Regions from separate parts of the Homo sapiens genome. Here regions 1 and 2 are each linked to region 3. The links come from fine-mapping of genetic effects on gene expression. A gene starts in region 3. Each other region holds a variant in brackets. All regions are shown on one strand. Distances are between the middles of the regions.

Region 1 (5,231 bases), 27 kb after region 3:
TATTTATTGGACACACATAATTGCTGTTATGATACATGAGAAGTTATGATCATGAATGATGATCACTGTAACTAAAATTTATGGAGCACTTACTAAGTACCAAGCATTTAATATACATGAGATGCATGTTAATACTGAAAATTCTGTGAGGTATATAATATGATTCTAATTTACATTCGAAGAAACCAAGGCTTAAAATGGGTAAGGAACTTGACTATGATTACAAAGCTAAAATATGGTAAAGACTGGCTTTGAATCCCAGGCTGTCTGATCTCAATGTTCATGCTTTTTACTGTAGTATATAACTTGTCCCCTATTACAGGTTAATATAAAGAGTTTGATTATTAAAGTGTACTACATTAGGTGCATTCAATCCAAAAATTTCCAACATTAAGAACAAAGAGGGGAAAAAAACTGAGTGATCAGTTAAAAACTCAGATATTCTGGATCCTAATAACCAGTTTTCTCCTCCTATCCAACAAGGCAGTGTGACTTCTCCCTGTTATTTAGTCATTAGAAGTTGTTATAAGATGACAAACTGGGCCCTGGGGTTCTATAAACTACTTGGTTAAGTCACAGTGGTACCCTTTTCTCCTGTGCTGTGCATATTCTCTACATGCTTTGAAGGCTGAAGGGGACCCTGGGCTGCAGCAGCCCAGTCTCCTTTTCCACTGAGTCAGCTACATGAAGAGGGGCAGACAGCAGTGGTCAGCGGTGAAGATGGCCCCAAACCCTCCTTTGCCTCTGGCTCAGCTGCAGACCTGGAGTGTTCACAGGAGCAGCTCCCTTTGTACTCAGCTCAAGTCATCCTGTAATTACCTTTTTTCTGGGAAAGGTCTATCCATCTGCATGATTTTGTCCCTTTCCCAGGGGAAACTAAGTGGTATTTTAATAAACTGTTGAACATGAAACCCTTGGAAGAAAGGTGGATTTTAGTAATATAGTGTAATGCAATGGGAGGATTTTATATCCCAAAGCCATATTAGGGAAAAAGAGGGCTTCAAGATGAAGGAGGAATGAGATTCAACAAGAAAGTTGGGACAATATGCAACGTTATCCTTGCTACTCTCTTTCTGCAGGAGAAAGGGAATGAAAGCAAGGTTTTTCACACTAATGAGCAGTCAGGCATGTTAACCATCATGACAGCCTTTTGAGCGAGTTTATAAAGATGAAAACCCAAGAGACCAGAAATGTTAAGTGACTTCCACAACACCAAGCCACAGTGGCAAAATTGAGATTCACACCAGGGCAAATTTTAATAATCAAACTGTTTATGTTAACCTGCAGTAGGGGACAAGTCTAGCCTTGGCTGGGAAAAGCAGCAAAGAACATTACACATATATAATTTGTCTGGTATAGAACATGTACACTTCCTAGTGCAAAGAAAAGATCCAGCTTAGTGTTCCTCTTAATGAACTTCCAGATTAAAAAAGTCAGAAGTAATATCTTTACTGCATACTGGATGATAATTCTATTAGGTACTTGTTAAAAATATGACGGTGGCCAAGGGAAAAAGAGAGGTATTGGTTAATTGGAGAACTTACCGCAATGGTTTTCCTTCCAGTTTCCTTTTTCCTTCCATTTGCATCTGAACCTTCACTAGGTCAGTTGGATTGGCTAAAAACTGGCCAATAACACCAGCCATCATCCCTCCAATGACTGATTTCCTAATTGCAGAAGGAAATTCTTTTTAAAGTTGCCATTAATTTCACGAATTTTATAGTGAACCAATACTGAGCTGGTACAGGGCCTAGGTAAGAGATTTCAGATCAAGTAAAGAAAAGGATATACCCAAGTAAGTCACAGAGTAAAGTAAACAGTTTGACTGTTTACTGATGGGAGGTTAAAGGAGTACAATGAGTGAAAATTTCAGGCCTTATATGGCCTGAAATCCAAAGGAAAGAGCAGTTGCTTCAAAGATACACACATCTGAATTGATAATTTAATTGTAGTTTAATTCCAACTACAGGGGAATAAAAACTGCATAGATGTAGTCAGCCTAACAGACAAAGGCTAGACTCCGGTCAACTTTAACCCAGATTACTGCAGTAGTCTCTTGGGGAAAATAAGCATTTTATTTCCTTTTACTTTAAAATAACTTGAAGAGCTACAAATGGGTATAAAAGAAAAGTCTCCTTCTGACCTCTATGTCCAGCTCCCCTCCAGTGAAGCAATCACAATTACTATTTTATTATATCCCTTGCCAGAGATAATAACGAATTCACTGAATGCTCATGTCAGGCACTGTTCTGAGCATTTTAAAAATACCATTTCATTCTCATATCAACCCTCATGACAGTGCTGTCATTCTCTCTGTCAGATGAGGAAACTGAAGCATAGAGCAGTTGAATGGCAGCTCAAATCACACAACTAATCAGTGGGACAGCCAAGATGTGAATCCAGACAGCCTGCATGCAGAGCCCACAGTCTTAAACACTAAGTTATGACTGACAGTTTGTGCATACACAAGCATATCTGTATAAATGTTCCTTTGTAAAAGCGCTAACATAGAATGTCAAGTTGTACAGTGTTCTGCACTGTTTTCTTAACAGCATATCTTAAAGGCTATCCCTATCAGGTCATATAGAGCAGCCTCATTCTTTTTAATAGTTTGACAGTATTTCATTTTATGGATATGCCATAATTTATTTAACGAA[CA/A]TAACTTTAAGAAATTTGAACATTTACATAACATTTGCTAGAGCCTGTCAAATTGCTTTCCAGAAAACCTTTATCAATTTGCACTTCCACCAACAACCTGTGAAAATGCCTGTTTCTCCACACAATGATGAGCACATACATTATCATATTTTTTCTCTTTGCATCTCTCATACCTGTTTCTCCACACAATGATGAGCACATACATTATCATATTTTTTCTCTTTGCATCTCTCATAACCACTCTTTTCTCTGTATTTTTTACATAATTCTAATTGTTTATTCATCGACTCTGTTACTGTAAGCTGAATGACGGCAGGACTGTTTCTTTTTCATTACTATAGCCTCAGTATTAAGTATAAGACTGGCATACCATACCATAATTACCCAATAAATACCTACTGACTGAATGAATTGTTCTGATTGGGTCAAAAGGACATTAAACCTATCCACCCTAAAAGTTCTGGTATAATATTTCCTTTGCACTTTTTACTTAAACCTTTCCCTTCTGGAAGAAATTCCAAAACGCAAGGACTATAAATCTATTCCATAATTGACTCTGGGAAAGCAATTAGTATAGCTTAGTACATTACAATTTTTCAAAAACAAGATAAAGAAATGTTGCCTGAAAGGTGAAACTCTACATATTGCCCCTTTTTATAGCTGTGACTTAGATTTTTTTAACCCTAAGAAAGATTTTATAGGCATCTTTCCATGTTAGTCATATGAAACCCACCTCATGCTTTCAATAGCTGTGTTATGCCATAAATATATCATAACCTACTTAACTGCTTCCAAATCAATAGTTTAAATTAAAAAAATAATTTTCTATCATCAACACTGCTACAGTCAATATCTTTGTGTCTGTCTTAATGCATATGTAGAAGCATTTATAAATGATTATAATCACAAAGGGGTTACACGTTCAAAAATGTTAACAAGTAATTTATGCTCCAAAAAGACTATAGTAACTTATATTTCCACTAACAGCTTAAAGTTAGTTTTAATTAATTTCCCTGATTATTGGTGAGTTTGAACATTTTTATGTTTAATGAACATGTATATTTCTTTTGTGAACTGCCTATTGGTATCCTTTCCTTATTTTTCTATTGTGCTTTCTCTCTCTCTCTCTATACACACACACACACACACACACAGACACAGAGGTGAAGAACAGTTTGGTATGTGCAGGCAGTGGAATCTTTCAGCTCATTAGTGCACCACTCTTTCCAAGAGAATCAATGAATTGCTTAGTTCTCTGAAGACACAGGCCAGATATTGCAGATCTTCTAAGTCACATTCCAAAATCTCCACTTTATTTTGTGGGTGATTAGAAGCCAGTGACAAGTTTTAAGGACACCAATAATGTGTTAATATCTGTGTTTCAAATAAATCACTCTGGATACCGGGTACACATTTGAGGATGGAGGAGGAGACGAGTTAGATGGCAGTGGTCCAGCTGAGAGGTTATATAATTTTATATATATAATTATATATATATATGCAATTTTTTATTTTTATTTTATATTTTTTGAGACAGAGCCTTGCTCTGTCACCCAGGCTGGAATGCAACAGTGCAATCTCGGCTCACTGCAACCTCCACCTCCTGGGTTCAAGCGATTCTCCTGCCTCAGCCTCCTGTGTAGCTTGGATTACAGTCCCCCACCACCAAACCCAGCTAATTTTTTGTATTTTTAGTAGAGACAGCGTTTTGCCATGTTGGCCAGGCTGGTCTCGAACTCCTGACCTCAGGTAATCTGCCCACCTTGGCCTTCCAAAATGCTGGGATTACAGGCGTGAGCCACCCCGCCCAGCGTGTGTTTTCTATATTTCTATTTATTTATAGGAGCTCTATGTATATTATTTTTAGTAACCGATTTTTTCAGTTTCCGTTAAATAATATACACTTACATTCATCATCTCACCGTGTCCTATAAAAACACTTAATGGTTTGTATTACTTCTATAGCTGTGAAAACTGAAGATAAAAAAGGTGAAGCAGTTTGTCCAGGTTATACAGTAGCAGAGCAGGAATTTGAGCCCATCCCTGTCTGACTCTAAAGCCGAGAGTTCTTAATAAAAAGAGGAATAAAAAGGTACTCTATAAGAATTCTTTCAACAGTAAAATACTAAATATCTCTATATATGCAATTTATATATGTATATACATGTATGTCTGTATACATCTGCAGTAAATGCTCAATTATCTGGACTTATATTGTAATTATTATTTTAAGTCCATAACTTAAGGCAATTTGGGTACAAATGTACAATTTTACATAAACCTAATAAACATTAAGGCATTTGGGGCAACAGCATATTATTTTCCAAACAAAACTTACCAAAGGGGATAATGCTCATCTTCACTTTTGCCAAACACAACCTCTCGGAGATGTTCATATGTGACCATTCGACCTCCAGAATACACTGGGTAAAAAAGATCATTAAAAAGGTAACTTTGGCTATATGTATCTATATGCTTATGTATGTATAAAATAAGAGGACATTCCGACATGGCCTAGTCAATCTCTCTAGCTGTGTCTTTGTCTCATGGGGCCGGTGCTTCTAACACGTGGG
Region 2 (5,231 bases), 34 kb before region 3:
AATAGCTATACTAACGAGTGCTTCATTAGTGTCAGTGGGACACCGGATCATTAAACTTGGCTCGGTTTGTATTAGTAACCAGATGTGCTAGATTTATTCACTCAGCAGGCATTTACTGAGTGCCTCTGTACACCAGGCACTATTCTAGGTCTTGGGAATACAGCAGGGGGAAAAACCATCAAAAATCCTTACACTCACAGAACTAAGTTTTTAGTGGAAGGTGATAAACAACTAACAAATAACATACAAGGTACGTTAGTTGGTGATAAATATTGGAGAAAAATAAAGTAGGGAGGGAAATAGGGAATGTATTGGTGTGAAGAAGGAGGTTAGATTGCAATTTTAAATAGATTGAACCGGGAAAGTGTCACTGAGAAAGTATCACTGGAGCAAAAACCCGGAGGTGAGAGGACCAGTCATTTGGGTGTCAGAGCAAAGAGCATTCCCATAAAAGGGAACACATTCAAAGCCCTCAAAGTGGGGATGGAAGGTGGGTGTGGAGTACTTGGCATGTTTGGTGAATGGCAAAGAAGCAAGTGTGATTGCAGCAGGTGTCCAAGAGGGGCTAGGGGAAGGATTGGGAGTGTGTTGAGTAAAGGTTATGTAGATCATTATAAGCTATTTTGGGTGAATGGCTTCTCCCCCGTAACATATAACACCATTTGGGGGTTTTGTGCAGAAGGGTGACACAATCACTCTGGCTGCTGTGTTGGGGATAGATTTTAGGGTCAAGGGCAAAAGCAGGGAGACTCGTTAGAGGTGATGGCAAATTTTAGGTAAGAGATGATGGTGGCTTGGACCTTTTCTATCCCCCACAAAAGTTGAAGGGCCAAATTTTAGGGGGGAAAATGGATGCACAAATGCAAGATAGTTTTTGCTAATAAGATGTTAGCATACAGACTAATTATAATTTATTATTACCACACATCTCATATTCTCTTGTTTCATTTACTGATTCAACAAGCATCTATGCAATACTACTTCTTCCAGGCCCTCTATTAGGCACTGAGACAACAAATAAGACCTGACTTCTGCTTTTTGGAAACTTATATCATAGTAGGATTATAGAAATTAGCAAGAATATAACATCATATTAACACCCAAAACAACCACAGCAGCAGAAATATAGTCACTATATAATTAAATGATGGAAATAGCCAAAATTTATGAATTATTTACTATGTGCTAGACATACCTATGGATATTATTATGATGATGACAGATGGTTGTTATATTTGTTATATTTTGTTGGCTATTTTTATAGCTGACCATACTGTTATAAAGTTAGAAAACTAGTGACCAAAAACTTAATCTAACTGTCTGAAAGTATTATTTCTCTGCTCTACAATCCAATGTAATCCTTAGTAATGTAGGTAATGGTAATCCTACATTACCAAGGATTTTACCATTGTAGTACCAATCTAAAACCCAGCACAGAAAATACATGTTTTATTTTTTCCAAGTGTTACTAGTACCTCAGCCTTTCTTGATTTGTCAGCTTATTTAAGGCCTCTTCATTGCATACTTCTTTTTTCTTTTAATCATCTGCTTCGAAGGAGACTAAGCTGAAACTGCTGCTCAGCTCCCAAGATGGTGCCACCCAAATTGCATGTGCTTTTCTGCCTCTGCGGCTGCCTGGCTGTGGTTTATCCTTTTGACTGGCAATACATAAATCCTGTTGCCCATATGAAATCATCAGGTAAGAGGTGTATTTGTTCAAGGTCTTGAGCAACTGATCTGTCGCCATACTTCAAGTGGGCCCCAAGAAGTTGCACATCTGCACATCTAAACAAGTCCTATTTAAAGGCTTATGGAGATCCTGTATTCTCCTGGAGTAGGGGAGAGGTTCTCACTTTTTCCTCATTTCAACTGAAATTGAAGAAGCACTTGTGTTCTTCAGTATCAGGACTGCAGGACAGAACCAGGATGGGACATTTTAAGATATACTGGACGCTCAGCTTGCAATCACCACGGAGAACCTCCTTAATGCCACCCCTTCTCTCTCTGACTGCCCTAACGCATGCCCACACAAGCATAGTAATGCAACTGGTCTGGAGTCCACTCCAAGACAGCCTCAAAACCTGCTTCCATGAGGTGAAAAAGAAGCAGGTGTCTTGTTCAACAGGCATACTCCTGGTTAATAGTGGAAAGTCATGTGAGATAACAATTTCAGGTCTTGGGATCCAAAAGGAAACAATCTTTCCTACCTGATAATAGAGAGAAGTAGGGACAAGTAGGTGCTAGGGAGTTCCAGATGAGAATGGATGTGATCACTCATTCTTTCTTGCCTTGTGGTAAGTGGGGAAAGAAAGAGGTGGAAGGCATAGACTAACCCAGGAGGAGTGGCCAAAACGGGACAGCCATCTTTAGACGGCTACATTTAATGTCACTAAGAGAGACCTTAATTGGAAAAAGATTGTTTCTGGAGCTTTGCAAATTCCTGCTCATCCCAGAGGATTGTGATGCATAAACTTCTCTTTCCAGTCTCCTATGGAGAGCAGTGTAGGTGGCTTCTGAATGGTGTCATACTGACTATACCTACAGAGCTGTGCACCTGGATAGTTGTGGGTCACTCTGGATCTAATTGTTCAAGCTTGATGGGTGACTCCTTACGATAGCATTTGCAAAAGAGCTTTCATAATTCAGTACCTTAAATTTTGCCCTACTACATAAGCAGGAAAATGAATGC[A/G]TTAGGAGAGGTTTTATATCTTATATCTACATTTGCATAGGAAATAGAATAATATCTCACAGGTCCATTCATCCTATAACGCATCAGGAAGTTAAGTCATCAAGGATACACTGGTGACTAAGACAATAAATGTGTAGTCAAATTCAAGGGTCCTGCATCCTAGATGACATTAAGTTCATTTTTCCTACTACCTTTTTCATGGATTGAGAACAGGTAATATCTTAGATGGTGGGAAAATCATCATTCGGGAAACATTTATATCCTTCACTTTTAATTGGTACAGGGTAAAAATTTAAACATTTTTAAAATCCCTTTGTCTTTAAAAATAATTGGAAGGCTGTTGCTGGACTGACAGAAACTTGAGGACAGGGACGTTGCTTTATCTTTATAGTCCCAGCATTGAGCCCAATGCAATGCCCATTCTAAATGTTCAAAAATGAATGCAGGCCGGGCATGGTGGCTCGTGCCTGTAATCTGAGCACTTTGGGAGGCCGAGGTGGGTGGATCACTTGAGGTCAGGAGTTCGAGACCAGCCTGGCCAACATGGTGAAACCCCGTCTATATTAAAAAAAAAAATACATAAAATTAGCTGGGTGTGGTGGTGCACACCTGTAGTCCTAGCTACTTGGGAGACTGAGGCAGGAGAATTGCTTGAACCCAGAAGAAGGAGGTTGCAGTAAGCTGAGATTGCACCACTGCACTCCAGCCTGGGCTACAGAGCGAGACTCTGTCTCAAAACAAACAAAAAAAGAATGCATATATATTGGTTTAAAGTATTAGAAACAGTTTATTAAATAAGATTAAAATAATAGGTGATTCTTTATAATTTCTTACTAAATGAATACACAGAAAATATGGCTATGCAGGTTAAAAGGTTTGTAGGAATGGGCTAGAGATATCCTCTTTACTAATGGAGGACATAAAGCCATATAAGAGTGTAATTGTCCTAGCATGTATACAGTTCATCTCCAAACCCAAGACTGAACATCAGGAATATTTGACAAATGAAAACCACCAAAAATATGTAATAAAATTAATAGCATGCCATAGGTTCCAATCCTCCTATTAAAATAAAGTTGAAGAAAACTAAGAAGAGACATTTATAAATTCTGAACCACAAAACTGTGTGAGTGGTCATTTGATCTGATGAGTCTCCTCCTTCCACTTCCTTAATGATGACTCCTGACAGATGGTTAGAGAATGGGAAATCCAGGCCCATAACCGGGTCAGCTGTAGGCTATGGAGCCTGTTCCACAGCCACCCCCAGGCACCCTGGCACTGGTGCATAGGACCCCATAGACCTATACCAAAACCTGGATCAGCCTGATGATTCCTGAGGTCTTCTCAGAGGTCAGGTGTCCTGGAACAGGCAGACCTCACCTTGACCTGAATGCTCCTGAATGCTGAGTGAGGAAACTTCCCAGGGAGAACAGGTGTTGGACAACCAGGGCACTCCTAACTTATTGGAAAATGTTCCCCTGTCCTTTGGAATTGAGATCTCACAAGCGGAGGCTTGTGTTGGGTGAAACCCTCCCATGCCTCCAGAACTGAGCCTCCAATTCTAGAGGTAGTGTCTCCAACAGCAGCTGTGGCCCTGGGGCTCCTTAGCGAGTTGTGTGAGCCAGAGGTCTCCCTGCAGCAAGCCCTGCACAGGCACACCATGCCTGCCTAGGGGTGGGGTTGCAGTAGCACCAGGCTGCTTACCACAGAAGAAGAAGCAGGTGTCCCTACCTTAAGGTCCTCCTCCTTGGGACTTCACATCTCCCTGTTACACCAGAAGCATGGCTCAGTAGATACTCTTTTAATGGAAGAAGAGCCTTTTGTAATTCAAAATAGACCCTGAAAGTTCACCTTGCAGGTAAAGTTTAAAAAAAAAGTTTCTGGGGTTTGAATCTACCTGGGGAGAGGTTAGACCTGCTAAAACTTCCCTAAGGACTCAGCACAGATTTACCTAGCAAGAGTAAATGGACTCTGGGGAAGGAGTAAACAGCATTATTTGTCTACCCCTTATGTGTCATGTTTTGTACTAAGAACTTGACCTACATTCTCACCTCATCTTTACAACTGTACTGTGGGCTGGTCAAGTGCTTTTATGTCATTTTACGAATGTGGATCAGAGAGGGGAGCAACTAGGCCAGAGGATTATAGCTTGTAAGAGGTACACCTGAAATCTGAAATAGAACCATGTCCCTCCAATTCACAGGGTTTGTTCATCTCCATCCCCTCTCCCCTTGCCTTTCTTGAAACTACCTCCTACCATTTGACCATGGATTGCTGACCTGTGTGTCAGGCAGGTGGTCTGGAACTTCAGCCCAGTGTCTCTTAAACTTTAATGGGCACTCCTTTTCTGATTGAGTGGAATTGTGGTGAAGTCCAGGAGCCTGCATTTCCAAGCTCCAGCTGGTGCCAGTGATGCTGGTCCATGGATCAGCTTTGAGTAGCTGAGCCTTATGTATTGAAAGGCTTCATCATGGGCAGGTGTTTCACACATGAGTCACCAGTGTGGAGGCTGTAAATTGGTTTCTTCCCATGACTCAAAACT
Region 3 (5,231 bases):
AGCCTGTGCCTTAACCTTCAGAAATTCTTCACTAATTGAATAAATATTCTTCACAGATACCATTTCTCTGTCTCCATAATCTACAAATGTTACATTGACATGCTCCACAGACTGTATCCCACTAATAAGTGCTCTGGACCACTGTCTGTTTACTGTTCGCTTAGCCAAACAAGCAAGGGTGTTTCTCTGGTGAGGAGCAGCTGTATTTTTGCAATAGTACTGAATATCAGACATTAGAGTTTTAAGTCCTTGTATGTTCCTGGTCAGCTGACACCAGAAATAGCCAGGGTTTTCAACATAAGACACTCTGACTTCTACTGTACTTCCAACTTCCAGCTCTCCTTTACTAGAGGAGCCTGGCTTAATTTCCAAGCAATTCTGCATAAGAGGAAAATAAACAGATGCTCTTTTCACTTTTTCCTGCACAACTAGTTCAGTTGAACCATTTGTTACAACTGTTGTGTCACTCAAAGCTTTTGAAACAGATGTGGTTTTATTCTCTCTCTTGGCTTTCTGCTCTCCTTCTCCAGTCTTGGCAAAAGGTATTTTGTTACTCTCCGTAGTAAAGTGGTTTGAAACATGCCCTGGGGAGTGGGCATTTACCAGGATATTTTCCTTTGTTTCAAATTCCTGATACTTGGCATATCCAGCTTGGGCAATTACCTTACTAATGTTTTCTTCCCCTGTTCTTGATTCGTCAAGAATCTCAATAACATATTGATGATCCTGTTTATCAAGAATATGGATGACTAATTCTTTGTGGAGCACAGTCTTTTTAAAAAAGGAAACTGCCTCCTGGCTCCAAGTTTTTCCCAAAGGCCAAATATCAGCCAGGGTGCACTTCACAGCCAATATTGGTAGCTGCCTAAACTGAGGAAGCAGCATCCTTACGTCATACCAGTCCACATTTTCCGAATTGCCTCGGTCAACTAAGAATACATCCACACTCTTGTCATCCAATTTGGTGACTATGGCCCTATAATAACCATTTTCTTTCCACTTGACACAGCAAAGGTCATCAGGTTCAGGTTTCAAAACTACACCATCCAGCTTACTGGCAGAGGAATAGAAACCACACATTCTCCTCATCAGCTTACTGAAGGTGACATTGTGTTTCCTCAACCTAATCCAAAACTCAGAAGGATTTTTAACAAACTCTACCTGCGCATCGTAGAAGGCATTCATCTTTAACCTGATAGATCTTAAGGCTGGGAGTGAAATCTCTTCATCTACTTCTTCAGCAGGAGACTGAGACTGAGATGTTTCTGGTTCCTCCTCCTCTGTTGCCTGGCTCTGAAGGACTCGGTCAGCCAAGCAACACGACTGTACTCCAAACACACGGTTCAGATTAATCCCATCTTCTCCATACAGGCTGACATAATACACATGCTCAAAGGAGCAATAAAATTCAATCTTTGCATTCACTGCCTTGCCTAGTATCAGTGTCTTCAGGTCACCGACCTGTGACCGAGACCAGCCTCTCCCACCGTCCCAGAGTCCATACAAAGCACAAGGGTAGGTCACCACCGGCATTCGAAAATATTCAGGCAGCAAGTACCGAAGGCTGCTGCAACTCACTAACTCCTTCCTTCCATAGTCCACATGAAGCACCTGGGCACAGCGCTGGGGCCGAAAAGTCTCAAGCAACAGTGCTCTGTACCAATGTCCATCCAGGCCACAGGATGCACACGGAGAGCCCGGCTTATCTGGGCTCTCCTCCCTCTCCTCCCAGGTGGCACTGGTAGAGTTCTCATCCCCTGTCCCCGTGGAACCCCGGTATACCTGGGCCATGCTCTCGGAGAGGCGGTGGATCTCCTGCGAGACGCTGCGGAGCTGGCAGTGAATGCGGTGGGGATGGCACACTTGGGTTATGACCACGGCCTCCGTCACGCCCAGCTGCAGCTGGGGATAGAAGTAATCCAGACCAGGCTGCTTTTGCTTGAGCGGGACTCGCGAGAGAACCGGGACCCCGGAGCCCACGCTAGCAGTGGCCGCTGTGAGATAGCGCTCCAGCAGCGAACGGAAGAGGCTGTCGGGCACCCGCCGAGCCAGGCCCAGCTCCCGCATCTGTTGGAACACATCAGGCACCTCCAGGAGGACCAGGCGATGGAGCAGCAGCACGTCCAGGACGCACCCGTGCACCTCCTTGCCCTGAAGGTTGCTAAGGAAGTCCACGGCGTCGGCGGGCCAGTGCTGCGGCGGCTCGCCTGAGCCCGCGCCGCAGCCTGCCGGCACCAGGCCCGCTAGCACGCAGCCCAGCACTTCCGAGGGCAAATTGAAGAACTCTCTGCGCCCAGGCGCCAGCGAGCCTGCTCCGGCCGTGATGGTGCGGCCCTCGTCCAGCAGGAAGACACGGCTCTCCTGTGCCTGCCGGCTGACCACGCGGCAGCGGTGCCACAAAAGCCCGACCTGCACCAGGCACAGCTCGCCGGGCGAGGCCGAGGCGCTGCCCAGCGCCCACTGGCCGCGCGTGGCCGCCGCTTCCTGGATTTCCCGGCTCAGCCGCAGGTACTCGCCCCGCCGCTCGCCCACCAGCCCCCACAGCTGCACCGGGATCACATCGGGATGCACGTCCACGAAGGACACCCGCAGGGCCAGCGAGGCCCCCGGCGCCGGCATTCCGGGCGTCGAGCACATCTTGACGGCGCGGCGCGGCCCCCACTTCCGGAAATTAAGGGCCGCGCCTCAGGGCCTCGAAATCCTCCGCGCCGCCTGAAGGCGAGTCCCAGCCAAACTAGGTTCAAAGGACCCAGTGGAGGGGAAGAATGCCGGCGAGGCCTTTTCTCGGCAACTCCCCCGTCGAGGGTCCTCCGGGACTCCCGCCACGGACTGGTAAGACCCGGTAGCCCCTCCAACCGCCCGAGGTCGCGCTTCCGGGCACGCATTTACCTCACTCGGCGCCGCCACTTCCGGCCGCGGAGAGTGGGCGGGGCCAGCCGAGGCCTGGGGTTGGCCTAACGCCTAAGGGCCCAAGGAGCTTGTTGGGACGTTCAGGAGACCCCGAGGTGGGAGGTTTTGGACACAACCTGCATCTCCTCAGAGCGCCTTCGACTCTGGAGGCCGCCGTGTGACGGCCTGACACAGGGCTGCGGTGAGGACCGACCAGAGAGGGATTTCCTTTTCGTCCTCCCAACTACCAGGGATTGAGCACTGGGGGCCAGGCAAGGTACTAGCCAGTGGCGTTCCCGACGGGAACGAGAAACGCAGGAGCCAATGGCACGTTCCTAGGCGTTAAGGCCGGAACTCTAGGAGGGCCCTGGGTGCTGCTGCGGGGCACGGGTGCTCCTGCTGGCTCAGTGTGTCCGTGGACAGCCAGGTGCTCAGCCTCTATTCTTTAACCCTGTTCCATCATCTGAATTGATAAGAGTTGTTATGAGGTTAAAATAACGTGTGAAAGTATATAGCAACTGGTACATATTTCCCTTCCCACACTTAGCTGATACGGGTTCCTTTGCTCCTTTGCTGTCTAACTCTGGCATCCCAATTTTGAAGGCATTTTCATTTACTCACAGAGCTAGCACAGAACTGGATTCATAAAAGGAGGCCAAGAGGAATGGAATCAACATTCCTTCAAGCCCCTGCTGTATATACTAAAATCTTAACAGGATAACCCTTTGAGGCCTCTGTTAAATGTCCAAACCTCCATTTGGAATGGAAAAGTGCAGGCAAACTAGAAGTTTCCAGGATATGTCTACATTAGATTTTTGTTCATTTGCAAAGTTAGACACATCCGTGGAAGCTTCTTATAGTCTGCCTGTACTTTTCCTTTCATTCCACGTTTCGAAATGTCATTACATACAAATACAACAAGGCAGTGCTTCAAATGACCCTGGCCTAACTGTAAATCTCAGTGTCTTCAGTCTGTCCAGATTAGAGGCAACCATGTGCTTCCACATCACCCTATGCTTACTTTTTCACGGCACTTTTCACATTGTGTGGCAACTGTCTGATCTCTATCATCCCACCAGCCGACAGGTTCCCTTTGGCAAGTACCGTTTGTTGGATTCTCGGAATCTAGCTTGGAGTGAAGGCAATGAATATTTGCTAAATGAATATGAATGAATGAATGAATGAATCCAATTTCTCTAAAAGCCAAAGCTTTTCTTTTCCTGAAGAACTCATCCTTGAAAACTCAATTTTCCCATTTTTTTTCTAATTGTTTCATATTCATTATGGAAGAAAAACATTTTATTTAAAAACATCTAGCAAGACCTAGCTCAAACGTCGTTTCCTCGTGACCCTACTATTCAACCTGGCAGAATTGGTTATTCCTTTTTTTTTTTTTTTTTACATACTTCTATATTATTATATTTTGTAGCTCTCTGTTTGCCACAGTAGGAACATCTTAAAAGCAGGAACACTTCTCATTTATTTTTATGTTCTCGATGCCTAGCCAGTGCTGGACTGTTAGCATCCAGTAAATCTTAACAAGAGTAAGCAATCTAACACTATGGCCTTTACAGTGGAAAGAAGGAATTCATTATAAAATGGTCTTATGATCACTTGAAATTGTTTTATCATTACATGGAATAATGGAGACTTTAATCCATCATCTATTTCAGGTTCATGTAGTATAACCAAACTCCTTTGTAGACCACAGGGTTGTAGATATTATGACTTTCTGTATTTCATTTGTCCTCCAACCTCCTTCCATGGCTCATGGCCTTAATCCTAGGACGTCAGGGTATATCACGTGGCCGTTATGGGCTGATCTGAATCCTTTACCCCCATCCACCCAGATTTTCCAATGTCCTACCTTTTCTGTATCTGGAGCAGGTAGCATTAGTTTGTTCTGTCATGCTCTGCTGTTGGACAGGGACTCGGGTTAATTTTAAAAATCAGGTCATTGCACTGTTAAGATTAAGCTCCCCTCATATATCTCCCATACTATATTAAACAAAATATCTTGAGTTTTATAATAAATAAACTTTCCTCCCATTAGTCTTGAGAGGCCCTTGGTTTCGGAAAAGAAGGGAGAGGGGATTTTTTTTTTATTATTATTGTACTTTAAGTTCTGGGACATTATGTACAGAACGTGCAGATTTGTTACATAGGTATACACATGCCATGGTGGTTTGCTGCACCCATCAACCCATCATCTACATTAGGTATTTCTCCTAATGCTATCCCTCCCCTATCCTTCCACCCCTTGACAGGCCCCGGTATGTGAAGTTTGGGAGAGAGGATATTCTTATCCTAATACAAATACGTAAGGGATAAAGGGGGAAAGG

Direction of the effects. Alleles are on the strand shown, and positions count from the first base shown. SD is a standard deviation of normalised expression in the study named. Not every link is listed here.
In carriers of allele G in region 2, the expression in macrophages of the gene that starts at base 2,881 in region 3 tends to be higher than with A alone (moderate effect, 0.54 SD a copy in Nedelec 2016).

What was found. PIP is the estimated chance that this variant, and not a neighbour inherited with it, causes the effect.
Region 1: its variant is the best candidate, but not a certain one, in a credible set for the expression of TDRD6 in prefrontal cortex (CommonMind, PIP 0.57).
Region 2: its variant is the best candidate, but not a certain one, in a credible set for the expression of TDRD6 in macrophages (Nedelec 2016, PIP 0.87).

The regions. Positions count from the first base shown.
Region 1 is chr6:46,658,812-46,664,042 of GRCh38, reverse strand. It overlaps SLC25A27 (solute carrier family 25 member 27), which reads right to left. Exons shown (of 9, transcript NM_004277.5): 3 at 4,997-5,081; 4 at 1,545-1,667. Among named protein-coding and RNA genes, the nearest start is that of SLC25A27, 8.5 kb to the right of the region's middle. The variant CA/A (reference allele first, on the strand shown) is at 2,658.
Region 2 is chr6:46,719,251-46,724,481 of GRCh38, reverse strand. It overlaps PLA2G7 (phospholipase A2 group VII), which reads left to right. Exons shown (of 12, transcript NM_005084.4): 2 at 1,557-1,699. The coding sequence starts at 1,591. Among named protein-coding and RNA genes, the nearest start is that of PLA2G7, 14 kb to the left of the region's middle. The variant A/G (reference allele first, on the strand shown) is at 2,690.
Region 3 is chr6:46,685,535-46,690,765 of GRCh38, reverse strand. TDRD6 (tudor domain containing 6) reads right to left here and starts at 2,881. Exons shown (of 4, transcript NM_001010870.3): 1 at 1-2,881. The coding sequence starts at 2,637. TDRD6-AS1 (TDRD6 and SLC25A27 antisense RNA 1) reads left to right here and starts at 2,601. Exons shown (of 2, transcript NR_134643.1): 1 at 2,601-2,832.